Linked DNA regions of Homo sapiens. The protein of the gene in region 4 interacts with the protein of the main gene of each other region in a pairwise test. Each region holds a gene or a part of one and is shown on either strand. Other genes may lie near its edges. The genes, in order: KLF11, KIF1B, ENKD1 and ASB3.

Region 1 (7,024 bases), about 44 Mb from region 4:
ACAAAGGAAGCGGAATCTTGGCACTGCCTGCCTTCACATGCATCTCGCCCCAGCTAAGCTGTGCTCTGGTGGAGTTTCATCCAACCAATACAGACATTTCCTTTTTTTCTGAGAAGTTACTCTACCCACAATATAGTACGGATAAGGCCACAGCAAAAGGAGTCAGAACTGACAATTGACAAAGCAGCTGGATTTGAGTGTTTCTTTTTTGGTGTTTTAGGTACAAACAAGAAACTGAATGGCTTGCTTTCAGCAGAGCCATGGCCAAGACTATTACAGACTAGATCCTGCAGCAAGTACTGGTCCCTGGGATCTGCCCAGTGGCTCATGTTACTCTCTGGGGTACATCCTTCATGACACACCATGGACACAGCTCACTAGTTCCAGTCAACCAAAATTTTAGTTCTTTGGTGACAGGAATGATTGCCTAGAATTTCCTTGAAAACGTTATGAAGAAGCTGACGGCAAAATTTATTTTTCCCTTTTAAGAGGTCCTTACTCAACCAGGTCCGATTCCAAAAAGATCTAAAAGGCCAGATAACTTGTGGTTTTTGTAGTGGAATAACATGTCCAGTTTACTAAAAGAAGGGCCATTAGGAAAAACTTTGTTATTAAACACTGAAAAGAAGGCTGCAAAATGATCTAGCTAGAAATTGGTGATTTGAGCACCAACAATATAAATATTTTTCTAAAAACCAGTATAAAAATTAGTACCCTGTCTTATTTCTACAAAACATCAATAGAAAAGGTTGTAAAAATCCAGATTTTGTAAACTTTATTGCCGAAATATTTGTTTGAATGCTGGTGATTCAGATTATCAAATTTTCTACCATTTCTTTAAAAAAAAAACCAAAACAAAAAAACTTCTGAAACTACAAAAGATACTGAACAGGGTCCCAAGTGGAAAAGAAAAGTTAACATACTTTCATCAAAACCAGCTCCCCGATCTTCCCCTAGGCCGCCAAGACCGTTTTTTTTGGGTGAGGCAGTGGGAGAGGAATCCATCAGTTCCATTCCTGGAAAGAGGCTTTTTAAAAATCCCATGAGTGATGTCCTAATGGACCTTTCAGGCAGAGGCTGGCATGCTCACCAGTGGGCTCCCCGGGCTCTCTGCAGAGGCGATTCTGTTCAGCTTGCCAACCTCTGCCTGCCAGCCTGGGATCTTCTTGGTCGTCATGTGGCGCCGGGCATGCTTCGTCAGGTGGTCACTGCGCATGAAACGTCGGTCACACACCGGGCACACAAACTTCTTCTCCCCTGTGTGAGTTCTGCGGTGGCGTGACAGCTCATCCGAACGAGCAAACTTTTTATCACAGCCATCCCAGCTGCAGTTGAAAGGCTTCTCCCCTGTGAGGTGAGAAAATACATATTAAAGAGAAAGGAAACGCTAAGCACCTTATTCAAGGGGTTAATTCATGTCATTTTAAAATCGTGTTCATCAAACTCAGAAGAAAGTGGTATCTTATTACTCTGGAATTGGATGATTTGGGTCAAGAAATCCTCCAAAAGGCATTTATTCCTCCCACACTTAAGATGCAGCTATGTTAGCACCCAAAGATTTCAAGCTAATCTTTCAAAATATATTTAAAAATAAATCAGGCGAAGTACAAGTACAGCGGCTCAAACCTATAATCGCAGCACTTTGGGAGGCTGGAGACGATCAGTTGAGCACAGGAGTTCCAGACTAGCCTGGGCAACAAAGTAAAACCCAATCTTTACCAAAAAACAAAAATAAATTAATTAAAAATGTAGCATCCAGCCAGGCGCAGTGGCTCACGCCTGTAATCCAAGCACTTTGGGAGGCCGAGGCGGGCGGATCACAAAGTCAGAAGACCGAGACCATCCTGGCTAACACGGTGAAACCCCATCTCTACTAAAAATACAAAAAACTAGCCGGGTGTGGTGGCGGGCACCTGTAGTCCCAGCTACTTGGGAGGCTAAGGCAGGAGAATGGTGTGAACCCGGGAGGCAGAGCTTGCAGTGAGCCGAGATTGCACCACTGCACTCCAGCCTGGGCGACACAGGAGACTCCGTCTCAAAAAATTAAAAATAAAAAATGTAGCATCCAGCTGGGCACGGTGGCTCACGCCTGTAATCCCAGCATTTTGGGAGGCCGAGGCGGGCAGACCACCTGAGGTCAGAAGTTCGAGACCAGCCTGACCAACATGGCGAAACTGTCTCTACTAAAAATACAAAAATTAGCTGGGTGTGGTGGTGGGTGCCTGTAATCTCAACTATTCCGGAGACTGAGGCAGGACAATCGCTTGAACCTGGGAGGCGGAGGGTGCAATGAGCGGAGATCGCGCCATTGCATTCCAGCCTGGGTGAGAGTGAGACTGTCCAAAAAAGAAAAAAAAAGTAGCACCGGCCGGGCATGGTGGCTCACACCTGTAATCCCAGCACTTTGGGAGGCTGAGACAGACGGATCATGAGGTCAGGAGATGGAGACCATCCTGACTAACATGGTGAAACCCCGTATCTACTAAAAATACCAAAAAAATTAGCCAGGCATGGTAGCTGGCACCTGTAATCCCAGCTACTCGGGAGGCTGAGGCAGGAGAGGAGAATGGCGTGAACCCGGGAGGCAGAGCTTGCAGTGAGCCGAGATCGCGCCACTGCACTCCAGCCTGGGCGACAGAGCAAGATTCCATCTCAAAAAAAAAAAAAAAAAAAAAAAAAAAGGTAGCATCTATTCACTCTACCTTACTCCAATTTAAATATTTTTCAGGTTGGCAGAAATATATATAAAAAGCAATCTTATCCAAGGTAAACTTGCCCAGTTTCTACTTCTCATGAAAATTCCAAGTTTACAAAATGGCACAAGGGGATTCTTCAGAACTCTTACAGTTATTTATTTTTATTTTTTGAGACGGAGTCTCACTCTGTCACCAGGCTGGAGTGCAGTGGCGTAATCTCGGCTCACTGCAACCTCCGCCTCCCAGGCTCAAGCGATTCTCCTGCCTCAGCCTCCCAAGTAGCTGGGACTACAGGAGCGTGCCACCAAGCCCAACTATTTTTGTATTTTTAGTAGAGACGGGGTTTCACCATGTTGGCCAGGATGGTCTCAATTTCTTGACCTCGTGATCTGCCTGCCTTGGCCTCGGAAAGTGCTGGGAATACAGGTATGAGCCACAGTGCCTGGCCAATTTTTTTTTTTTTTTTTTTTGAGATAAGAGTCTCGCTCTGTCGCCCAGGTTGGAGTGTAATGGCGCAATCTCCATTCACTGCAACCTCCATCTCCCAGGTTCAAGTGATTCTCCTGCCTCAGCCTCCTGAGCAGCTAGGATTATAGGCATGCGCCAGAAGGCCCAGCTAATTTTTGTATTTTTAGTAGAAACGGGGTTTCACCATGTTGGCCAGGCTGGTCTCAAACTCCTGACCTTGTGATCTGCCCACCTTGGCCTCCCAAAGTGCTGGGATGACAGGCGTGAGCCCCTGTACAAGGCCTGTTATTGAATTGGAAGTACTTTAGGAAACATGGAAGCAACTTGTTTCAATCACTGCAGGTCATTCTGTCAGTACTTCTACCAAGGTAAACCAAATAAACGGTAAAACTTCATTCAGTCACCTCCAACATTTGGAAGCTGTGCTCTGGTGTAATGCAAAGTTCCCCTGGAGAGTCCCGGTGAAATGCAGAGCTCACCAAGTCAACAAGCCCATTAAAAGAGGCAGGCAGGTCAATTCCCCTCAGAAACACCCGTTCCCTGACACAGCCCCACGTCCATCTGCCATGCAAACAACCAACCCTCATTTACTGACTAGTGTCAGGCCCTTTTATCAAGCACCAGGAATATATCCAGGTGAGATATACAACTAACTAAAAAACAAAGGGAGACTATAGTAAGACCTACAATAAACCACTAGGGTCAAAGAAGGAAGATAAAGAAACAATCTAATAACTAATCCTAGGAAGGCCCTCAGAGGGTTTCAGTAAGTAGAGATGGGCAGAGGGCCAAGAGGGAAGGGTGGAAATATGGAACCAGACATAGAATGTTGGGGAGACTGTTTCTGAATGGGCAGAGGTGAGTACCTCATGGGCCAAGTTTGGCTTTATCCTCAAAGCAAGCAGCCACTCAGTAGAATGGAGTAGTAGAGTTCCTCTTATAATGTCTGAACACCAGACTGCACTTTATTCTACACGTGGAGGCTACCACGATCAGAGCAACAGAACACAAACTCACAGAACACCTGAGAAATGGTGCCCTCACCTACTGAAGCGATTGTCTATCCAGCAACACTCAGACCACTGCTGCGCAGCAGGGCAGCCACAGGTCCCATGGAGCTATTTAAACTTCAAATACTAAAAAATGTAAAATTCAGTTCCTCAGGCACACTAGCCACACACTTCAAGTGTGAGCAGCCAGTGGCTACCCTAATGGACAGACAACAAACATTTCCACCATTGCAAAAAATTATATTGGACAGAGCTGGTTAGACAACAGAGAGATCATTAGGTCAGCATAGTTTCTTGTGTGACTTACTTTAAATTAAAAACTACTCTCAGAGGTAAGAAAACTATACTCTTTTAAAAAATATTTTAGAATTTGAACTTTTCTATAGTTTGGCCAGACCTTTTCTCACATAAACATAAGTCACACTGGTAAGATACATTTACTAAATGTGAATGAATGCATGTTTTCTTTAAAAAAAAAAAAAAAAAAAAAAGGATGAAACGTCTACTGCAATGTGAACAGAAGGGGGCACTGTAAGTCACTCTAAAAGCTACCAAAAGACACAATCACAGAACTATACTACATTTTATCTTCCAGGGCGAGCGCTCTGTAGGCAAAATCCTGATGGCTGTGCAAACAATCCCACCCTTACAAGGTTGTGCGGGCTTTTCAGAACCAAAGAAAAAGCCACACTTCCACCTTCGCCAGGGGTTCTCATGATCCCCTCCCAGCCAAAGGCGGCTCAAGGTGTGCTTCCTAACCACAGGGTCTGGTGTGCCCAATGCCCCACCTGCCCCAGCGCTTACCTGTGTGAGTGCGAAGATGGGCCTTAAGGTGGGAACTTTTGAAGTAGGTCTTCCGGCAACCTGGGAAGCTGCATACATAGTTCCTCCTTCGGGAAAAGTCTACCTGAGGGACACAGTTTTGGCTAGAGGTGATGAACACTGGAGCAGGGGCAAGGGGCAACAACTTGGTATTCCCGGCAGCCATGACATTGGCTGCACAGGGGGCAGGCGGAGGGAGGGCTCCCTGGGGCAGGACCAACATCACAGCTCCCTGAGGCACAGCAGGTCCCACGAACACAGGTTGAGGCGCTGGAGCAGCCTGAGCTAGGATGGGTCTCACAGTCCCCACAGACAACTGGGGAGGGGGCTTCAAAAAAGCTGGTAACATGCTACTTTGTCCAGTCACAGGGATCATCTGGCAAAGGACAGGGGGAGCAGGGACAGAGACAGAAATCAGAGGGGTGGTTTTCCTGGGCAGGTCATTTTCATAATTCTTTGGTGAGCAAGTCTGAACTGCACCAGGCCACCCTGCCTGCTGGCCTTTGTCAGTGAGCAGCAGGCCACCAGACTTGTGCAAGCAGGGCTGACAGGACACCAAGTTAGTGCTGAGTAAACTGTCCGTGAGGTGTGTGTCCTGCAAAGTTTCAAAGTGTCCCAGAAGCTGCTCTTCTCCTTCTCTGCTGTCAGAAAGCCGGCAATCTGGAGTCTGGATGGTGGGAAAGCAGGCAGCAGGGCTCTCCCCAGTGTGTCGGATCACGCTAGTCCCCTTGGCCCTGCAGGGAGAGCTGGGCACTGGCTCCAAACCCAGCAAGCCCCTCTCCGCGCCCCCGCTCAGAGCTCTGGCCACTACGGCAGAGGACTGGAGAACATCCGTGGCTGTACATGCTTTGGAATCTGTTACTTGGGGAGAAACAGGTGTCCTTGTCGATGGCTCCACGAGATCAGGGCTCTGAGGAGGAGTTATGCACTAAAAAAAAAAGTACCATGTTAAAAGGTTGCTTTAAATTTTAAAAGGGATTTAATTCATCACAATGCTCCCAATACCTTTACACAGAATCATCTAGACACTCAGTTAACCCTGTTTTCAACATCCCAGTGGGTTTCAAGGCTGCATGAGGCACTCTGCTTTCTCAGCTTATTCCCAACGTGTTTACCTCTCCCAAACCTACACAAGAGCCCAGTGCAGGGAACTCTGAGAGGAGCTCCTGGCCGCCAGGCCCACCACTTCTGCAACCCTCCCGACAACCCACAGGCCCTTCCTATCCCTCTCCAAATCTGCTTTCTACACTCTTCTTTCAGAGCAAGCTTCCAGCCCAGGACAATCACAATTTCCACTTCTGTTAGCAACCTACAGTTCTCAGCTTCTCCAAGCTGAGATGCAATTTTTCCAAGTACTTTCACAGATGTAGCAAATTAAAAAAACAAAAAGCAAGAGTGACTTACTGCACCCAACTCACAGAACTCACATTAAGGAGTCGGCTGCCACGGGAGGGCAGAGGTGCCACCCAACGAAGGCAATCTGATGTCAAAGTACATGCTTTCTCCAGCTGCTACCGATATATTCTGACACTAGGCTGGAGAACCTAAGCTCCACCCCGAGATTCCCCTGGGGAAGTAAATTTCACTTTCTCACATTAATCTGTAGGTTTCATCCCACGGACATTAACCACGTAGCTAGCAAGGTATGATCCATCCATAGAAAGAGCACATTTTTCAGAAATGAAAGAAAAGTTTCTTTTTTTGTTCTTTTATTTTTTTTTGAGATGGGGTCTCGCGCTCTGTTGCCCAGGCTGGAGTGCAGTGGCACGATCTCGGCTCACTGCAACCTCCGCCTCCCGGGTTCAAGCGATTCTCCTACCTCAGACTCCTGAATAGCTGGGACTACAGGCGCCCGCCACCACACCCGGATAAATTTTGTACTTTTAGTAGAGATGAGGTTTCACCATGTTGGTCTGGCTGGTCTCGAACTCCTGACCTTGTGATCTGCCTGCCTGGCCCTCCCAAAGTGCTGGGATTACAGGCTTGAGCCACCATGCCTGGCCAAAGGAAGAGTTTCTACTCCTTCAG
Region 2 (7,024 bases), on a different chromosome or scaffold from region 4:
CTGGCTGTACCTTTATTATTTTTACCTCGTTCACTAACAGCTCCGTGACGCAAGGTTACCACACACAGTTAGATAGTGTCTGCATTGCACATCTAAGGCTATACAGCAAAAGAATCAGAATTAGTACAAATACAAGAACTATATTTACAGTCTGTATACTCAAGCTCCAAACATCAGATAATATTTACAAAATAAAACATGAAAATGAAAATCCAAAATTAATGTACATTGTTGCTAATGTGCTCAACTCCTTCACGGGGGAGAGATCAGTTTGCAAAGTCTTGGTTCAAAAAGGCCACTTATGCATTATGGGTTTTGTTGTCATGTGTGAGGATGGTGACAAGAGACTTGAAATCTCAACAGACAGGTACTTTAGAGCCACAAAGTCTAAGACGATGCCTTAAATACAAGAAGGCTGAGGGACTCCTCAAGTGAGCTGATGCCAGAATAGGCAGAATGAAAAAAAATGAACTCGAAGACATGAAGAACAACACACAACAGCCACGGTTTGGCAAGAGACCAACCTCAGCTCAGACTTTCCATCTGAGCACAGCCGTTTGGCTATGAGCTTTTTACTGAATTTTATAGCAACTCTGATTTCTTCCTTTAAATGATTGGAGGCTTTTTAAAGATCTTATGGGGCTCAAATACTAACTTCATAAATGGCCTTTTGAATAACAGCAGCAAATAATCTCTCAGCTGATATTTCAATTTACTAAGGAAGCACAAATTAAAACATTCCTGCTACACAGTCATGGTCTGGCCACACACTGGGGTGAATCACTGGCCCTGGTGAACAACTGTAGTGCACACAAGTTAGAGTCCTATGTAAACACATCCAGCAAACCTTCTGGGAGCAGCAGCATCATGAATCTTTTCTTTTTTTTTGAGACGGAGTCCTGCTTTGTCACCCAGGCTGGAGTGCAATGGTGCAGTCTCAACTCACTGCAGCCTCCACCTCCCAGGTTCAAGCTATTCTCCTGCCTCAGCCTCCCAAGTAGCTGGGACTACAGGCACACGCCACCACGCCTGGCTACTTTTTGTATTTTTAGTAGAGACGGGGTTTCACCATGTTGGCCAGGCTGGTCTCAAACTTCTGACCTCAGGTGATCCACCTGCCTTGGCCTCCCAATGTGCTGGGATTACAGGCGTGAGCCACCACACCCGGTTGAATCTTTCAAGAGGCAGGTTAACAATCACATTTTTAAAAGGGAACCGAAAGGAAAACTGAAAGACCTAAGTCAAACAAGCCCTGATACTGTCCATTGGAACCCGAGCGGGACACAGCACGAGGGAAATGCAGAAAGAGTACCGATGAGTGTGCACACTGGAGAATCCTTTCTCTCCAATCCACTGTGCAAGTAAGTATAGCTGGATAAATATACATAGACCTGACAAAATTAAATATCCCTGTAAATTAGACAATAAGCAGCAGGCAACAAAGTCTTTGCTTTGGAATATGTGCCAGGAAAAGTCATCTTGTTTTTAGATCTCAAGAGACAGTTCACAATGACTTAGTTCCTTCATCTGAAATGAGCTGAAAAATCCATAAAAAATAGGAGAGTTGTCTGAAGTCTATGTGACTGAAGGGAAAAAATATATAATAGTGGTTTCTTAGTTGGGAAACTCACTCCATTGCCCCTTGCCGTCAGCACGTTTAACAACGAGCTGGGGCTCAGGTGCCCGGCCACTGCCACAAGCACCCCTTGCCTGTGCTCCTGACTAGCGCATGGGCTGGCTGGCCCTGCACAGTCCTGGCCTGAGCGCTGACTGACTCCCAGGAGGGCACACAGACACAGAGAGGGTCTGAGCACTGATTTGGGGCTGGTGGTGAGGCCATATTTTGCTTTGATGGGAGAAAGGAGGATGAGAGACAGAGGAGGAGGTGATTAGTATTAACTAGCACTTATTTCTCTGAATTTGCCTAAGAATTCTCTTTCCTGCCTTTTAAAGTTTTTGCTTATTTAAAGGCGTGCTTTAAGAAAATACATAAAGGTGGTTTCCTTAAGGGCTATGTTTCTTAACTTTCCCGCCACAACAGCAACAACTAGAGCCTCATAAACAGTTCCTGCCACAAATCTCTCACAGCCTCACAGTGGGGATGGTTCTGTCGGGCAAGGGAGCACCCACCCTGGACGTGCTGGGGACCAGCAAAGGCTGTCTGCACCTGCCAGCCGCAGCAGGGGCGCCCCAGAGGGTGAAGAGCACGCAGGACACGACCACTCTGCTCCCTCTGGCTCCCTAAGAGGCCTTCTTATTCAGGCACGCTATGAACAGACAGTCCAGTTTGGCCTGTTCTAATGTCTGACGCTTCCAAAGCAAAGACTTTCCAAACCAGTTTTGTATGAGTTAGAAGAAAAACAAAAGTCATTTCAGTGTATCACATAATTTCACTCTCTCTCAGGCTTCCCACCGTCCTGTGTCACAGACATGGATCCTCTGTCACACTCTGTAACAGCAGCATCAATGACTTAATTTTAAAAGTGACCTTCAAATTCCATCTTCATTTCCCTGAAATTAGATTTGATTCCAGTCCAGGCAGCCATCTCTAAGCACCGACAGATCCTGCTGGTTTGAATAGAACCGGAAGGGCATATTGTGTCCATCAGACAATGAAACTTCTAACTACATTAGAAAATCTCACATACCACTTAGAAAACAAATAACATCACAGTTAGTGACCTATGTTTTAACAGGAAGAAGAAAGTTAAAAAAAAAATCCGCCATAGAGTTTCCGCGGGTCACTTTTCAGGTGCAGACGCAGCCTGTGATTCTATCCTTTCCTTTCTCTCTCCGTGATTCACTTTTCCTCCTCTTCACAATGCAGTGATAAGGAGCGAAGCTGGGAGACCTGTTCTTCAGAGATGAGCCCAACCAGGAAGTGAGAAACAAGGTTGTGGATGATGACACAAGTCTCCCTAGCAACAACTCTGCAGAGGCGCGCAAGCCCCTGGCCTTTGCTGCGTGAAGCGGGAAGTCATCCAGCTGCCTAACGCCTGAGAGTCAGCAACCTCAAGGCCGAGGACTCACCAAGTGGGAGTGAGCAGATACTTTCCTGAATGCCTGAGCAATGGTGAAACAGAGAGGTCTGAGCAAGGGAAGTAAAGGATGGTGTAAAACAATCCCAAGACAACTGGCAAAGCAACTGAAGTCACTGGAGGCTTTCTTTTTCCCCTCTCATCCTGGAAAACTTACTGGCAGCTGAAAGAGACAGACTTATCTTCTCTGATGATCTCGGAAGCCAGATGACCTGGTCTGTCAGAAGGAAAGAAGACTGTCCACAGTGAGCTTCCTCCTTTCTCCCTGGGCAGTGTTTCCACACCAGATGGAGAGGAGCAGGGAACACGCAACAAAGCCTGGGGCCCGGGCTCCCTGGACGTTCATCCGTGCCCCTAGGCATATTGTGTTTTGTTTGGAGTAGTGGTCACGGTTAGTTTTAATCCTGGGATCCAGAAAGCAAAGCCTGCCACATTTGCTTATTTATGAGTATAGAGAGCATCACTGAAAGCATCTTCAACCTGACAAGCATCAATGAAAACAACTGCTGGATTCAGAGGGAGACTTCCAGGTTTATGCCTGAAAGCTATATTTCTTTGATCAAAGGGAGCTGTAACAATCACAAGGTCACTACCCAGCATTATTATTTTTTTTTTTTTCTGAGGCAGAGTCTTGCTCTGTCACCCAGGCTGGAGTGCAATAGCGCGATCTTGGCTCACTGCAACCTCTGCCTCCTGGGTTCAAGCAGTTCTCCTGCCTCAGGCTCCCAAGCAGCTGGAATTACAGGCATGTGCCACCATACCCGACTAATTTTGTATTTTTAGTAGAGACGGGGTTTCATCATATTGGCCAGGCTGGTCTTGAACTCCTGATCTCGTGATCTGCCCGCCTCGGCCTCCCCAAGTGCTTGGATTACAGGCGTGAGCCACTGTGCCCGGCCTGCCCGGCATTATCTTAATCATAACAATGACCATCAAGTTTATCACCAGAAAGTGAAACACTCCCGCCTTGTGGAACATTTGTGTATGACATGGCACTAATTCCAACTGTACCACCACCATCACTAATGCCAAAAGCAGAACTGAGACACTCCTAGAAAAGAGCTTCCCTCCCAACAGAGAAAAAACAGTGGGCAGGAATCCTGCTGTGAGGAGCTACAAGCATCCCACCGCCTGCTGCCATCACGGCCCACGGCCAAACCCTGGGGTCCCCTGAAGTCCACCAGAAGCATCCTTGGCATTTCCCTTCACACAAAGTCAAGAGCAGCCACTGTCCCAGGCCCACTGAAAAAGCCTCTCGTCTCCTCTCTACCAGTAAATAAAAATTCCATAATTATGCCGTAAAAAGCCCCAACTTTGACTCAGAATATAACTGTTGCAGTTCTATGCTCACTACCACCTTTTCCCTGAATGGAAATGCAGGGATTAGCCATGGCAAAAAGAGACAGAGGGGAAAAAAAGACTCTTTTTTTCCTCTCAGGTTCTAAAAAGGCCAGATGTCTCCTCCCTTAGTCTCTAAGCCACCCAAGAAAAATTAAAGTGATATCACAAACAGAGAAAAGAAAAAAAAAGTATGTTGTCTTGAAAAACAAAGGTGCCTGGTGACAGCAGCACAGACATCAGAGGTGGTCATGATGGGGACCTATCATACAAAAGGAAGCCAAAGTACACCCACAATAATTTGGAGATTCACCAGATCCCCTCAGAGTTTTTGTGTTTTTGTCTGTGTATGTGTGTGTGTGTGTGTGTGTGTGTGTGTGTGTTTAAAAACATTTTTTCCTTTTGTTAGGCCACATGCTACTAACGAGATTCTCAGCACAAGAAAAAAGAAAAGAGTACAGAGCAATGGAGATGGGGAACGGGAGAGCTAGAAAAGTGCTGGACAAGGAGGGAGAAGTAGTTAAGCCACAGGATTACATACAAGAGTCACCGTCAAGAATCACAAAGAGAAATGAGAGGTAACGCTTTCTTTATCTCTCGAAGGCGAGTGAGGGCACTCGGCAGAGTCACTTAGTATTTCGACTGGCTCGGGCATCTGCGGGAAAGCTTTGACCTATGGGGGACAAACGGGGAGGTAGGATTAGAAGTCTGGGTACAAGTCTTGTCCCCTCACAGTCCTCTCCCTCTGAGGCTCCCTCCTGGAGCATCTTCCTATTTGGCACCGCAGGCCTAGTCCTCTAAGCCGTCTACTCCGGGACCCTGTGACACAAGCCCTCAGAACGTGAGGCTGAATCACAGGGCTGGAGGTTGGGAGACCATTAAGGTTCTCACTGTCCTCCCTTTACTCTCTCCCCTGAGCCCCATCTTTAGAACTCTTGAGAACAAAAAGACAAAGAAGGAAAATAATTGGTGCACATGTGTGACCAGAGTATCCCTGGTGGTTCAGAACATGACAATGCCTTACAAGATGCAGAGGCCTCATTACCACCCCACAACCAATTTACACTCCTGTCCTTCCTCTCTTTTAAATTTATTTTGAAAAATACTTCCTTTCAAGCCAGATGTGGTGGCTCACGCTTGTAATCCCAGCACTTTGGGAGGCCGAGGAGGGTGGATCACCTGAGGTCAGGAGTTCAAGACCAGCCTGGCCAACATGGTGAAACCCCATCTCTACTAAAAATACAAAAAAAAAAATTAGCTGGGTGTGGTGGCGGGCACCTGTAATCCTAGCTACTCAGGAGACTGAGGCAGGAGAATGGCTTGAACCTGGGAGGTGGAGGTTGCGGTGAGCCGATATCATGCCACTGCACTCCAGCCTGGGCCACACAAGAGCAAAAACTCCATCTCAAAAAAAAAAAAAAAAAAAAAAAACAAGAAAAGAAAAAAGAAAAGAAAAATTCTTCCTTTCCTATTTATCCTGATATTCCTGAAGCCAAAAGCCAAAGAGAGAAAGAAAACACAGAACAACTTCTAGGCTGGGTGCAGTGGCTCAGGCCTGTAATCCCAGCACTTTGGGAGGCTGAGGTGGGTGGATTACTTGAGGTCAGGAGTTTGAGACCAGCCTGGCCATTGTGGTAAAACCCCGTCTCTACAAAAAATACGAAAATTAGCCAGGCAATGGTGGCACGTGCCTGTAGTCTCAGCTACTGGGGAGGCTGAGTCAGGAGAATCGCTTGAACCAGGGGGCGGAGGTTGCAGTGAGCCAAGACCAAGCCACTGCACTTCAGGGAGAAAAAGTGAGACTCCGTCTCAAAAACAACAACAACAACAACAAAACTTCTTACCGTATTGTGCCAGCTAGAAGTGGGTTGAAGGCATACAACCAGTCGTTCATGTCTTTGTCATTGAGGGCCTGCAAAAGGACCCCACGGTGCTTTGTGCAGACAGCAAAGGTGTTTGGTGTCTGAAAGAAAAATGCAGGTAGACAAGAAAGTTACTACAGAGACAGCAATGGGGACTGCCTTGCCATATTCCCAAGGCATATAGCACTTCACAAAGGAAGTTCAAAACCAGAGAGAATAGGGAAATTTCACACCACGTAACAGAGAGTGCAGAAATCAAAAGAGAAGGGCACACGTGGCAATAAGAAACCAAGGCAGGGCAGGACGGACCTTCACCATGGCCTGCTGGTCCTCACTGTACTCCACCTGTGCTGTGGACAGGTTAATGATTCCACGCTCCACAGGGTCTTTGTCACTGTTATAGATGAAGACATAAGGCCGACGGACGACAACAAAATGTTTAGCCCAGTTACTGTAAAGAGGCTCCTTGAAATGAAGGTATCCTTTCTTAGAGACCACTGAGCTAAAAACGACAATATGACAAAAGTTAGTTTCTCACAAAAAGAAAATAATCGTGCTGAGGACCATCAAAATACGCCACACTTAGGCCAAGTCCTTAGATTCGATGAAACAGGCAAATGACCTATTTGGCCTAGAATCTTATCTGCCAAAGTAATACGGCAAAAGCGAAACCGTGCCATGGCAACATGCTGCGCCAGGGTGCAGATGCATTATGAGACCCAACTGGAGAAACCCAGGCTGGCCCTCTCACCCCAGACTCAACTTGCATCAGACTACAGTACAGAT
Region 3 (7,276 bases), on a different chromosome or scaffold from region 4:
GCAGGAATGCCTCCGGGGGGCTCTCTTGGCAGCTCGTGCATTGTGACGAATGAAGTCCACCCCCAGGCCTGGCTCCTGCAGGACACAGCAAGCGTGGGTGGGGGCAGACAGCATTATGTTGTGTCCCTGAACACCCCCCCCACACCAGGAGCCCTGCCCAACCACCATCTAGCCCCCATACATCCTCTCACCTTAGCTTCGGGACCTGGTGGGGTTGGCTGGGGACTAGATACATGGGGTGGTGGGAGGCCAGGGCCGCAGCGGGAGTGCGCCCGCAGGAAGTGGGCAGACTCTGTCCCAGAGGCAGGGCCAGGCTCCTGGAGGGCAGGGCACAGCAGAGAGAGCAGGCAGGCTGAGGTCTGGGGCTCAAGCTGCAAGACCCTGGCCATCTTGGCCCTTCTGACCTTTGCATCCATGTCCCTCGGGCCCTCTTCCCTCTTCAAGGGACACTTGTCCTCATCAGCACACAAATGTGTGAGTATGTCAGATTTTTAAGAAAACAACAAACCATCTCTCCTTCCACCTCAGTACTGGCCCAGCTACCACTCTCTTTCCTCCTTCCTAGCCAAGCTTCCTGGCTCTAGCCCTGCAAGGCTCCTAACAGCTGGCCTCCAAGTCCTCAAATCCAGGCGGTCAATTCCTTGGTCTCGTTGTCCTCAACCTGATCGTCAATAACTCCTAGGTCTCACTCCTGAGATCCAGGCCTGAATTTCCATCTGCTTCCTGGACACACTCCCACCCCCTGGGAACCCCACAGATGCTTCAGCTACAACACATTTGTGTGACCTTGCCTTTCCTCTCACTCCTGCTCCTCCTACTGAGTCCCTGAGACAGAGCCCCCCACCATACCCCTGCCCTTCCCACTGTCCTCAGAAATAAGGGCTGAAAAGTGGCTTTTGTGGCCCCTGACGTGGGTCCAGCTGACTTCTTGGCCTAACTTCACGCCCTTCTTTCCTCACAGTGAACTGTACCTAGCATCTCCACTGCTGCGTGCCCTGTGGTCTGTGAGGTTCCATCTTTTGGGAATGTTCTCTTCTGCTGTCCCTTTGACTAATTGCTACTTGCCCTCAGGATCAGCCCCACCATCACTACTTCTGAGAAGCCCCCCAGCCTCGCCCTGCAGCAGAGCCAGGGTCTCTTAGTCCTCTGTTACCTCTGTGACTTCCCTCCCACCCCAGAACTCAGATCAGGGTACAGTTGCCTGTTGGCCAACAAAATGGATAATACTTCTGGCTCCCTGAAGCAGGTACCTGGAGCTGGGCCTTGACCCGGGACTCCACCTTGTCGTACTTGGGTGAGCGCCACAGAGCTTTCAGGGGCCTGGGCTGGCCCTGCTCCCGGCTGCGCTCCTGTTCTCTGAAGCGCTTCTGAATCTCCCTGATCCGCCTCAGGTTCTCCTTCTCATGGTCCTTAGGGTCCTTCCCTGGAGAAAAGATGCCCCCAGGTTCTGCCCTACATGGGGCCCACACAGTCCAACTTCCACTAGTTCACACACAGGCCTGCCCCCTGCCTCCTACAGAAAGAGCTCCCTGACCTCTCCAACTACCTTAGACCCTACACACACTCTCCCTCATCACCGTGTTCCCTTCCTCATGTAGTAAGTATCACAGGATGATTTTCTCCATTATTATTATTATTATTATTATTTGAGACAGGGTCTCACTCTGTCACCCAGGCTGGAGTACAGTGGCATGATCATAGCTCACTGTAGCCTCAACCTCCCCGGCTACCTCAGCCTGCCGAGTAGCTGGGATTACAGACACACTCCACCATGCCAGCCTGATTTTTGTATTTTTTGTAGAGATGGGGTTTCACCATGTTGGCCAGGCTGGTCTTCAACTCCTGGACTCAAGTGATCTGCCCGCCTGGGCCTCCCAAAGTGCTGGGATTCCAGGAGTGAGCCACTGCGCCCAGGTGATTTCCTCCATTATTATAGTGAAGTACACCATTGAAGTACACCATAGATCATCTCATATATGACATTCATCTCTTGATCTTTGTATCCCACCTTGACTCAGTGATGGCTCATGCTTATCTTCAGCCCTGTGTTCTAGCATCTATATGGCCTGGCACACAGTAGGCACTCAACAAACAAATTTAATGGGTAACAAATGCATAAAGCAGAGCTAGGGCTTCGTGGGAACTACCTCATTCAGTTCACCTCCTTCGAGAAGGTAGCATATTTCTCCCCCTTTTATAGTTGGGGAAACTGAGACTCAAGAGATGCAAAGCCTGGGCCCACGTCAGGGTGGAAAGAGCAGCTGCTTTTGATCTCTTTCCACCCCGCACTGCCTCTCTGTCCCTTCTTCCATTCCTGGGACTTACTCTTGAGAGAGGCCCCAGGACCTAGGGAGATCCCCTCGAGTTGCAACAGCACGTCCCCGACGCCGCGCTGGCCGCGCTCCAGGATCTCTCCGGCACCGGGACCGATGCAGGGGCCACGGGGAGCGGTGGTGTCCAGGGCCCGGTCGGAAGTCAGCAAGTCCAGCTTCAGCGCGTTTCCCTCGAGGCGCCCTTGAGCTGTGGGGCGGAGCCGGGCGGAGTCCGGGGCTCAGAGGTGGAGCCAGGGCCGACCCCTGAGCCTCGCACCACCGCCAAGCCCCCGGACTCACCCGAGGTCGGCCGCCTGTAGTTGTCAGGACAGAGCGTCGGGTCTGGGGGGATGGGCCCCGAGATGCGGGACGGGCCCTCGCACATGCCGCCGGCGCCGCCCAGCAACGGTGCCCCGAGGCCTGCAGGGCTGTTTACCTCCCTCCCCGGGCCCCCTTCCCCAACCCCGGGCCCCCTCCCTCGCCCGGCACCCTGACCCTGGCGTGCCCGCCACTCCCGGGCCCCTGCCGGTCCCCGCCTGGGCCCCGGCCTCGCTCGCCACCTCCGCGACCTCTGCTCCCAGCCCACTTCTCGGTCCCGCTCGCGGCCTCTCCCCCGCGGCACTCGGGCAGGGGCTCACTCGAGAGGTTTTGCCGCCAGCCGCTGCCACCCGACGGGACTTGTTGTTGCCGGGCAACCGTGGCTTCCGTCCCCGGGGTCAGGGCCCACTGACCCCGGCGCAAAGCGTCCTGGGGCTTGTAGTTTCGGCCGAGGGTGGGCTCCGCGGTCGCCGGTTTCTCTTCCCAGCTCTGCCCTCGCTTGCTGGCCGGTCTCCGGGGTCAGCGCGGGGCCACCATCCAGCCCCTTGGGGCCCGCCCCAAGCAGCTGTCGAGGACGCACTCAGCCTGCGCAGCCATGGCCTCGGCAGGGGCGGAGAGGCGGCCGGGGGTCCAGGAGGCGACGGTCGTGGGGCAGGGACAGCTCACGGAGGAGCCCGGCAGCGCTCAGACCTCCGAGGTGACCGTCAGGCTGTTTAACCTTCAAACACAGGGCCGCAGCGCTCTGAGAGGTGGAACTGAGCGCCCCGACCCGCTAACTGCCAGGCTGGGCCCTCCAGGCGGGGAGGGGCACAGGCTGGTGTCCTTATTCCCGTTTCGGTGTCTAACGTTAGGTGTTCAGTGACGGATCCCTATGTCCTTTGCCCGGCCATGGTGACCGATGGCCTGTGTGTCATCTCTAGTGTCCAGTGGCGGGAGACCAGTTCCTGGTGCCTGCCCATGAGGCCCGCGGAACCCAGAGTGAAGACCAGCGCCCAGCAGGCGCAGCTTCGGAGTCGGAGCTCCAGGAGGAAGGACCCAAGCTGGGGGAGGAGCGGCCCAAGCCGCATGCCGGGGCGCTAGAGGAGAGAGGCCCCAGGCCCGTGGTCTCCATTGTGAGGCCCCGTCATGGTCCAAAGAGAAAGCCTGTCAAGTGAGGGGGCTCTCGGGGGGAAGGAGCTGCAGCCCCGGGGTTGGGGCACACACCACAGTAGGATTCCTAAATCCTGCACTCCTGCAGGGAGGATTCTCGTCCCCAGCCACTACCATCACTCTCCTCCCGTTCCTCAAGAGCCCCCGTGTAGGGAGCAGCAGGAGAGTGGGAGCTTCAGGGCTTGTAGGGGCCTGGGCTCACTGGCCTCTAAGCCTCTTGGGCCTGGGGTCTCATTGACCAGGAACGGGACAGGCGTCGAGCCCTGGGGCTGTGGGCAGGCTGGGCTATTCCCTGGGCCAGGGAATGGGAGCCAGGGCTGGAGCCTGGCTCAAGTCTCTTGTCCCTGGCTCAGGTCTCTCAGCCTCCCGGGCCTTCGTGCCCATCTTAAGGCTGAAGCTGAGCTGCCACCCAAGCTGCCGCTGCAGGAGGAGGAGCCAGAGGACAGCCAGAGTGAGCCCTCACCATCTGCCAAACAGCACAAAAAAGCCAAGAAGCGCAAGAGCCTGGGGGCTCCCGTGCTCCACGCTGTGGCCAGCATGGTGTCTGCACCCTTAGAGACATTGAGGCTGGAGCGTGAGTGGCAGTCCCTGGACTGTTCCTTCTCCCCCTGCCTGTGGGGCCCGACATGGCACAACCTGGCGCTCTAGCCTCTGCCCTGCCCTGGGTCTTTGCAGGAAAGGCCCAGCGCCTGCGGCCGCTGTACCAGTACGTCAACTATTGCAACCCTGAGCTGAACCAGGCAGGGAAGGGGGACGGGGAGGCTGAGGTGGAGGCAGAGGCAGAGCTGGCCCCGGTTCCCGAGGAGGGAGGTGTGGAGCAACTGCAGGCCTTGCTGCCCTTGGCAGGTGAGCTGGGCCCAGGCCTCGCTTTGCCCTGTCCCAGTCCACTAGTGACCCCCACCCATGCCCTGGCTCCCCTCGGAGAGGAGGCTGGAGAGGAGCCTGGGGGCTTGCCCAGCTTGGGGGTGAGTGACCACAAGGCCGAGGTGGATAAGTCAACCCAGGTGGACATCGACAAGATGCTGAGTGTCTGCACTGCTCCACTTGTCCCCCCGCTCTCTCCTCAGTACAAGTGACTGTCCCGCCCCACTGGTGGCTCCCCTCCTTCCACGCCTGAATTTGGCTTCAGGCTTCCTGTGGGCCTAGGCCCTCTGGTGGCGGGGGCAAATTTGGCACCTGCCCCCACTTGGGACTTTGGTCTTGCTGAAAATAAATATTTTTCTTTTTCAAAGACTTTGTGATTCCCCAGATAGGTTGCCTGAAATGGGTAAGAGGATGGAGGACTCAACAGTGCAGGGTTTGAGGCCTGAATGGTCATCTGCATCACCTGAGACTTTGACAATGACAGATTCCTTTGTGCCACCCCATGCCTCACTGAATCAGGGTGGACCTGGTGCTGTGTGTTTAGGTGAATCTGAGGGTCAGGCAGCTAACTGGGTGATGAAGAGGGAAGTGAGAAGGAGGAACTTGGGGCAGAGAAAAGAAAGGGTCTGTTGGGTCATGGGAAGCAGGTGTTTGGCCCTGCTCTTCTGTCTCCTGGGGAAGGGCCTGCATTTGGTCTCACCTTGAGGGGATCAAAACTTGGGATCCTCCTAGGAGGTAGCACAGAGTTCTTTTGCCTGTCACAACAGTGACAGCTTTGGGATGTTTCCTACTCATTGCCAGACCATAGCTGGACCGGACCTTGTCTGTGGAGTAGCCTCTGGTCACAGGTGACAGGGCATCAGTGATGTTTTCCTGGCAGGCAGGGGTGGACAGGGGCAGTAAGTGCATCTGGGACCCTGAGGCCAAGCCACTGGATGACAGCTGTGTCCAACCGGCAAGGATCTCTGGGAAGAGCCAGCCAGTGTTGGCCATTTTGGAAACTGCACATCCTGGGCCTCCTGTGTGTTCCTTGGACACCACAAACAGACACAGGGAATTTTAAGTTCATGGAAATTTCCCCTTCCTCCAACTGGCTTTTCCTCCTGTATCTCATCTGCACAATTGTTTAAGCTAGAATCTTGGGTGTCACCCCAGACCCCATCCTGTTCTTTGCTCCCTGATTCCTACAAGCTAAGCAGACATTGAGGCCAGTGATCCTACCCTTTCAGGCTGAGAACCTCTCGGACCCCACAGTCAGCACCGTCGCCTGGACCACTGTCATCTCCAGGTGACAGCCTCACTGGTCACCCTGCCTGTCATCCCTTGGCCCACGGATCCATCCAGTGGCCCTGTGACACACACACCTGAGCCCCTGATGGTGTCACTCCCCCTTGGGATTCCCCTCCTCTTGCCCCAGCTACCTTAGAATTCAGTGGCTTCCGGTAATTCCCTGAGCAGTTACACCTTTTCCTCCCTTCACTCTGTGCATGTGGGGCTTTCTCTGCCTAAAATGCCTTTATTCCCACCTCTCCCCCTGGCTAGTGCACGCACACCTTTGAAAACTTGGGATTCTGCTTCCTGGGGAGCCAGACAGCACCCCATGTTGCCCTGCATTGCAGCCCCTGCGCATTGCTATCATGTGGGTTATAACTGTCATCGGGATTAGACCGTGAGCTCCCTAAGGGCACATCTCATTGCATCACATCGACCTAGCCAGAGGGCCCCTTAAAAGGCACCAAGGTGATGAGACTGAAGTGAGGGGTGGAGGAAGCTGCAGAGAGGGACAGGCCAGAATCTGAAATGCTGAGGCCATCCCGAGGCCACAGTCTAATATGTAGGTTCCCTGGAATATGGCCTGGCAAGGTCACTGGAGGGAGTAGGGTGGGCAGGTTCAGGTGGGAAAAGCAGGGTCCCCTTTCTGGCATCATCCCAGCCTGCTCCCTCCTTTGACAGGGTCACTTGGGTGCTCACTGGCCCCATGACAAGCCATGGGGGTCAGGACTTTTTTTTTTCTTTGAGACAGCATCTCGCTCTGTTGCCCAGGCTGGAGTGCAGTGGCACAATCTTGGCTCACTGCAACCTCTGCCTCCCGGACTCAAGGATTACAAATGTGAGCCACCGTGCCCGGCCAAAAATTTTTTTTGTGGAGATAGGGTCTGTGTTGCTCAGCTTGGTCTCAAACTCCTGACCTCAAGCAATCCTCCCTCCTTGACCCCCCAAAGTGCTAGGATTACAGGCATGAGCCAAAACACCCAGCCAAGATAATTGAGCTTAACCTCCTTGCTTTATGTTTGGGATGGCAGAGGCCTGGAGAGAAGTGGCCTTGCATGAGACCACACCCTGGGATCTAGGAATCCCTGTCTTGAGTTGTGCAGGATCTGCCGACCTGGGGGCTCTCTGGCTAAGGCCGGACCCAAGAAGGCCTCTGTATCTTTGTGCGGTCTCCAGGGCTGGAAGCGTGAACGAGGCCAGCACTGATAAGGAAGAGCTGGTCCTGTCTTCTCACAGGTGAGGCAGGAATTAGAAATCGTGGGAGAACTAGTCTGCAATTCCTGAGGCCTATTACCCAATGGACTTGTCTAAGCAGGGTGGGTAGTAGGAGCTGCAGAAAGGACCAAGTCCCTACTGCTCCT
Region 4 (7,024 bases):
AACAGAAATCTCCAAAGCAGCTCCAAGCATTCTTTCTTCTGTTACAGGCATTTTAAGAGAAGCATGAGGAATGCCCAGAAGTCGAAGAAATATCCCTCTTAGAAGAGCTCACTGGCATCTATCCCCTCATACCTCCTTCCAGTCACCTCTTATCTTTTCCCAGGACTCTGTGCTTAAATTCAATCTCATTATTAGCAGCCACCAACTCCTTCACCCCAATTCAGCCATCACAGTCAAAACACAGATACCCTTCTCCAAACACTGGGATCTCAACTGAAGGAAATTAAAGGTAGTATATTCACTCAAAAAGGGTAAGCCCGACTATGGTAGAATTTCTTACCAAGAATTGCACAGTAGAATCAGTGGGTCAAATCCAGCAACCAGAAGATGTGGCAACCACTCCTTATATTTTGCTTGTGCTTTAATTGCATGATTTACAAATTCATATATATGGTTCCATGGTCCCAATGAGCAACCTTTCCTCAAAAAGTAGCGAAATATCGAAAACTTCTCGTACTTCAGGCAGTATGCCAAATGAAGTTCATTTATCTGGGCTCCATATTTCAAAAGAATGTTCACAATTCCAAAGAACTCACAGCTCCACCATAAAAAATAAAAACAAAAAAAGAAGAAGTTAGACTTTGACATAAGATACTTCTTACAAACAGTTAATAGTAGTTACAGCTGGGGAATAAGTATGGCAGATTAAATAGTGGATGGTTTCTACACATCTAGTGGATTGAGATTAGAGAATGTGGTGGGGCTTTTGCTTTTTACACCCTCCTGCATGGTTTTTAATTTTCAACTGTGAACAGGTATTATTATAATTTAAAACATTCATCTTAAATGTCATTTTAAAAAAAATTATCATTGACAGAAAACTCAAATTGTGATATTTTGTACAAATGAGTATCTTTACTACAAAATACTTTGCTTAACAAAATCAATAAACAACGTGATCAATCCTTAAAACTAAATGATTCTAGGAATCTCTAAGATATCATTTTCCTTAGCAATAACCTTAGCCAATTTCCCTCCCACTTTAAACTTATTTATTTTTCTAGATACAGGGTCTTGCTCTGTGGCCCAGGCTGACGTGCAGTGGCACAATCAAGGCTCACTGTAACTGAACTCCTGGGCTCCAGTGATCCGCCCACTTCAGCCTCCTGAGTAGGTGGGACTACAGCTACATGCCACCATGCCTGGCTAATTTTTAAATTTTTTTGTAGAGACAGAGTCTCACTATGTTGCCCAGGCTGGTCTCAAACTCCTGGCCTCAATGAATCCTCCCGCTTTGGTCTCCCAAAAGGTATGCCACCGTGACTGGCCTTACATTTATAATGGTATTAAAAAAAATTTAAAAACTTTTTTAATTAACACAAATTTAATTTACAATACTACATCTTAAAATTAATTAACTTCTATTATTATCTCCATTGTAGATGCAAAAACTGAAGCTGAGTCACAGAGCTAGTAATTGGCAGAACTGGGATAATGATATCAAACCAAAATCTAACAGTGAATATGACATAGCAAATTTCTGCAATATCTCTTCTCTATTATGAAAACTGAACACTTCATGATATAGCCAAATTGAAGAATATTTTAGAGCCAGATCTATGTTTTCCAAAGTAGGTTACACAGAACTTTAGTTCCTGAAAATGATCCATATGAAAAATACTCTCCAGTGAAAAAAACTGAGAAACCTCCTTATACAGTATACAGTGAGCCTGAGAAAGATAGGATGAATGTATTTTTAAACAATGTGTTAGTTACATTTCCAAATATATGCTCAATGTTTTTATTCAACTTTCAGATACTTTTCAGAAGAGGTACCTTTAAAATTAACAATGGGTCCAATCATTAATCTGAAAAAAGCAAACAAAAGTATAAAATGCCCAAAATTCTGTAAACACAAGAACAATGGTATATATACTTAAATATAAGTTCTATCCTATGTTTCTGGACTTTTCAAATCTTTGTAGATCCATTCCTCTTTTAGGAATTCACAAAGCACACTACAATAAGAAAAATTCTCAAAAGCCCTCTACAAAAGAAACATATTCAATATTATTTAATCCTGTACTTCCCAAACTTATTTAACAATACAACCCCTTTAATCCCATATAATATCTATTAACAATCTACAGAATTAGTATTCTACCAAAACACACTTTAGAAAATCAGCTCTAAACCTCTTCCAATTATTCACATTGCCTTGTATTAGAAGGGGCAAGAGTAAATCCCAAAAGGCTTATAAAACTGCACAGTGCTACAATATAGACCATTTCCCAAAAAAACTACCATTTGTTTGAAGAATAAAATAAACACAAAATAAACTGGAGAAGCATAGAGTTTTGTCAGCATGCCCTGAGCTTCTGGGAAGGTTATTAAAGAAGGTCTCAAATACATGTGCACACTACAGAAACACAAGCAACTTCAACTTCAGGGCTCTATATGACCTTGATTATTACATGTCACTAAGCACACAATAAATCCTTGAGCATGGATAACCTCTGGTTAAAATATAAATTAGTATGTATTTCTCTTAACACTTCAACAAATTCTCTCTGTAGCCCTAATATCAAATTGAGAAAACTCTTCAAGTACCCGAGATTTAAACAAAAGTCTATCTTGTTTAACATAAATATCAAGAATTAATTGTGACATAGAGGGACTGTACATTATATAAGAAGTGAACAACATCAGATACTGAGAGGAGAGATTTAAAAATTAAAATCCAATGTCTAGACCTTATTTTGGGGGTTTGCACATTTTCTACCACTCCGCTCCTTGAAGTTCAAAACTATGCAGAAAAACAGTGCTCACACATAAAAGAAGCACAGTAAGAGAAAATTCAACATGAAAACAAAATTTACTTTAAACAAATAGAAATGGGCAAATATCTTCAGCATTTTATGTTCAATTAGCAAACAAAATATCCAACCAACTTATTAGGTGAATTATAACAGGCCAAATAGTGAGTTTTACTGAATGGCTTTCGACCATTAGCTGAAAACAAGATGAAGACATTCAGTTTTGTCAGATGTGCCCACACGATATGGTGGCTAGAATGGACACAATTAATTCTATGAAACTAATGTAATAACAATGATTAGTATCAACTAGAAAAACAGACAAAACCAGGTGAGCTAAGCCACAATCTACTTCTGTGGCCATATATAAAAGGCATTCATATTTGCTCAAACAGTCCTAAAACTTCTCAACTTCCCTCTTCCTTTCCCATTCCATTTGGAGGAATCTTTTTCTTATATTTCCTCATTCGAGATGGATTACTCAATTACTCTTGAAAGACTGGCTTCATATCAATATAGCTGCTAACTTTTTAGCTCCAAAGGACAAAAACTGCTTTTGTTGCAGGATCTATACAGTAGTGGAGGAGACACCTTTCCATCATCCCTGGGAGTGGTGAAAGGAGCTAAGTGTCATTCTCACAAAGAATACCTACCAAAAATGTTTCAGAACACTGATACTGAGCTTAAAAGTTGAATTAGCTGAAAAAATAATAAGGAAGAGAAAACTTAAAACCTGGGGCACCTTAGGAGGCCAAGGCAGGAGGATCACTTGACCTCATAAGTTTGAGGCTGCGGTGAGCAATGATTGCACTACTGCACTCCAGCCTGGGCAACAGAGTGAAATTCTATCTCAAAACAACAAGAATAAAGAAAATCCAAAGCTGTTATTTATCATTTTCATCACCTTTTGGTGTTAATTGTACTATTTATAAAAGTAGATAAAAGTTTATTAGAATACAACAGGTCAATAGTGCAAGAAAGTCCACAAATAGTAAATTAATAGATTTCAGAGAAATACTAGAAAATATACAAATGAGAAAAGGGAAGTCTTTTAGCCATTAACACCTGAAGTCGGATAGGTGTTAATTACAACAATCATACCAAATTAACACTATCATAACACATTGTTGCTATAAAAATAAAATTTTTAAACTTATACCATTAAACTTACTATCTATTACCAAATCCCTAAAAATTAGAATATCAAATAATTAATTTTGGAAAATTGAATCTTCTAAGTTACCTGGTACCAGTATTGTGACCAAATTTGAATTCTTATAACTGGTAAAAGTGATATAGGAAATTCGTGTATCACTCATTAAGAAAAGTAAGAAGGGCTAGGCGTGGTGGCTCACACCTGTAATCCCACACCAAAAAGCCAAGGCGGACAGATCACTTGAGGCCAGGAGTTTGAGACCAGCCTGACCAACATGGGAAAACCCATCTCTACTAAAAATACAAAAATTAGCCAGGCGTGGTGGCATATGCCTGTAATCCCAGCTACTCAGGAGGCTGAGGCATGAGAAACGCCACAACCCAGAAGGCAGAGGTTGCAGTGAGTCAAGATCACGCCACTGCACTCCAGCCTGGGCCACAGAGCGAGAGACTGTCTCAAAAAAAAAAAAAAAAAGGGAAAAAATAACATATGATAGCTATTTTAAAATTAAGATTATATTCAATTGTCCTTGCTTTATAATTGGTGACTGTAATTAATTTAATTAATTTTAGTCATGTGATTGTAGGCAATCCAAATTTTAAGATGCTTACTTATCAAAAGAAATAACCAAAAACATATTTTTCAGCTTCAATTTTTTTCCCTCAGACACTGGTTATATGACCCTCTTGACATACCAAAGCAAAACCTACTGGGAAAATGATCATTTTCTTGCTTAATTGGAAAAGCTTCATACAGAAACTCAAAATGAATAAGTCTCATATTACATATACAGTAAATGTATAAGCAACCAGCCAGACATTAGATAATAAAAATGTGGTATTTAGTTTTCTTGGAAATAATGAAAGGTTTTCCTTTACCTATTAGGTAACTGGTCTAAAAAAACAAAGATTCTGCATTTTATCAAGATGATTCCCTGTGCTTCATGTTGTCTTTATTCTATCTGATCACTTATGAAAACTCTCTAATAAAGAACTCAGGTTTTTCTACAACTATATAACTTTCTGCATTTGCCTTTTGAAGCCATTTAATTATCACTCTAGATGAGATAAGTGACTATTATTTCACATTGACCTGTGATCCTACTTTGGTAAAGTTTTTTGAACCTTGATATTTTTGACAAAATTCCCACAATCAAATTCTACGTCTCTTTGACCTTAAAGTTTGCTATGTTCTATTTTATAGAATAAGGTGTTGCCCAATTCTAGAATGAAAAATAAAAAGACTAAGAGAATACACCCTCCTAAAACAGATATTTTGAGGTTTTGACTTTATTTTTAAAGGCTAAAAATATAGCATTTTCCAATGACTACTTACTGAAAATCTACCTAAGAATATATTGGTTCAATTACAAGTCTCACATGAAAGAAAATCGCTCATATGCCCTTTCGATAGCACAAAAACAAATTGTAATTATGCTCACATGGCCACTTCAAAGAGCAAAATTTCTAAGAGATGCAAAAACAAAACACACAAAAAAAACAAAACTAAGTTTGTTAACTCATGTCTGTGACCAAGGACTACTGTACACCATACTGCTTCACCTTTACTTTTCTTTTTCTTCTTTGATCCGGGGAGAGACTAGGTCTCCCTTACATTTGTTTTATAGCATTTTGATTTTTCTGACCATGCCTTTCTGTGAGTTTATCCTGTTTGGGTTTAACAGGCCTCTTAAATCTGTAAATTTATATCTTTATCCAATAATAGGAAGTTTTTGGCAATTATTAATTTACATATTTTTTCTGTGCCCAATCTCCTCTCCTTCTGGATTTTAATGACATGAATGTTAGACCTGTTGATACTGTCCCTTCGTTCCCTGACGCTCTTGTTTTTTTCTTCCATCTTTTTTCTCTTTTGTACTTCTGTGTGGATAATTTCTTTAAATTTGTTTTTAACCTTTAAATTTGTTAAACATTTGTAAATATTTGTAAATTACAAAAGCTAGTTGCCCAGAGAGGGACAGTATGAAAATATGAGTAGATGTTCCAAACAGGCAATATCCTAGAATGCAAGTACAAGGCACACATCCGGGCAAGGTGATCTGTACATATATTGACATTGAGACCAAAGACTCTCTCACCCAAAAAACTAGGGTTTTTTTAAGACAATAATTACAAATTACAAAGCATTTTCACAACTGTTAGCTCATTTGATCCTCAAAATAATTTTCTAAAGCAAGCTTAGGTGTTATTACTATCCCTATTTTAAAGATAATGGAATGAGATTTAGCAGAATGAAGTGAAATACCCAAAGTCACACAGCCATTATACATCTGTGACTCATCCAAGCCCAAGAATCATGCTCCATCCTTATCCCTCCACAAGGCATTGAGGAAGACTAACATATAATAAATATGCTAATCTGATATAATTATTGATTCATTAATTCACAAATATATTTTTAATGCCTAATAGGAGTTAGATCAAGGGCAAATCCTTGCTCTCAAGGAGCTTACATTCTAATGAAGAAGCAGGTATGTAAACAGACAAAATATTATGTCTTTAAAAAGGAGTCAAAAGGCAGCTTCTTTTTTTTTTTGTTTTTTGAATCTGCTATGTTGCCCAGGATGGAGTGGAGTGCAGTGGCGTGATCTTGGCTCACTGCAAGCTCTGCCTCCCCGGTTCACGCCATTCTACCGCTTCAGCCTCCTGAGTAGTTGGGACTATAGGCACGTGCCGCCACGCCTGACTAATTTTTTGTATTTTTAGGAGAGACGGGGTTTCAGCATGTTAGCCAGGATGGTCTCAATCTCCTGACCTCGTGATCCGCCCACCTTGCCCTCCCAAGGTGCTGGGATTATAGGCATGAGCCACTGCACCCAGCCAAAACGCAGTTTCTTAATAGGAAGTCTTCCCCCAGCATTCTCAGCCCTGATTCTTATGCCCAATACTAGTTACTAAGAGAAATATACTTCTAGTGTGAAGAAAAGCAATTCATCCATTCTCACAATCTGGTAAACATATCCAACCTCTTTTGCTCAAGTGTTGAGCTAACAAAACAACCTTCCATATTGTCTTTAGGAACACTGGGTTGT

What was found.
Region 1: the proteins of ASB3 (region 4) and KLF11 interact in binary tests that used the Homo sapiens proteins (3 or more experiments, as listed by UniProt).
Region 2: the proteins of ASB3 (region 4) and KIF1B interact in binary tests that used the Homo sapiens proteins (3 or more experiments, as listed by UniProt).
Region 3: the proteins of ASB3 (region 4) and ENKD1 interact in binary tests that used the Homo sapiens proteins (3 or more experiments, as listed by UniProt).

The regions. Positions count from the first base shown.
Region 1 is NC_000002.12:10,046,550-10,053,573, reverse strand, and holds part of KLF11 (Krueppel-like factor 11), read right to left. Parts: intron 5,925-7,024; coding exon 4,979-5,924; intron 1,348-4,978; coding exon 1,067-1,347; 3' UTR 1-1,066. UniProt on the Homo sapiens protein: Transcription factor. Activates the epsilon- and gamma-globin gene promoters and, to a much lower degree, the beta-globin gene and represses promoters containing SP1-like binding inhibiting cell growth.
Region 2 is NC_000001.11:10,374,570-10,381,593, reverse strand, and holds part of KIF1B (kinesin-like protein KIF1B), read right to left. Parts: intron 6,741-7,024; coding exon 6,548-6,740; intron 6,340-6,547; coding exon 6,221-6,339; intron 5,050-6,220; coding exon 5,007-5,049; 3' UTR 1-5,006. UniProt on the Homo sapiens protein: Has a plus-end-directed microtubule motor activity and functions as a motor for transport of vesicles and organelles along microtubules.
Region 3 is NC_000016.10:67,663,746-67,671,021, forward strand, and holds the start of ENKD1 (enkurin domain-containing protein 1), read right to left. Parts: upstream 3,006-7,276; 5' UTR 2,698-3,005; coding exon 2,613-2,697; intron 2,521-2,612; coding exon 2,326-2,520; intron 1,424-2,325; coding exon 1,251-1,423; intron 318-1,250; coding exon 192-317; intron 76-191; coding exon 1-75. Other genes in the region: uncharacterized protein C16orf86, read left to right, coding at 3,756-4,353, 4,428-4,855. UniProt on the Homo sapiens protein: Microtubule-binding protein which regulates microtubule organization and stability. Promotes the stability of astral microtubules and facilitates the proper orientation of the mitotic spindle.
Region 4 is NC_000002.12:53,699,931-53,706,954, forward strand, and holds part of ASB3 (ankyrin repeat and SOCS box protein 3), read right to left. Parts: intron 599-7,024; coding exon 341-598; intron 1-340. Other genes in the region: GPR75-ASB3 protein, read right to left, coding at 341-598. UniProt on the Homo sapiens protein: Probable substrate-recognition component of a SCF-like ECS (Elongin-Cullin-SOCS-box protein) E3 ubiquitin-protein ligase complex which mediates the ubiquitination and subsequent proteasomal degradation of target proteins. Recognizes TNFRSF1B.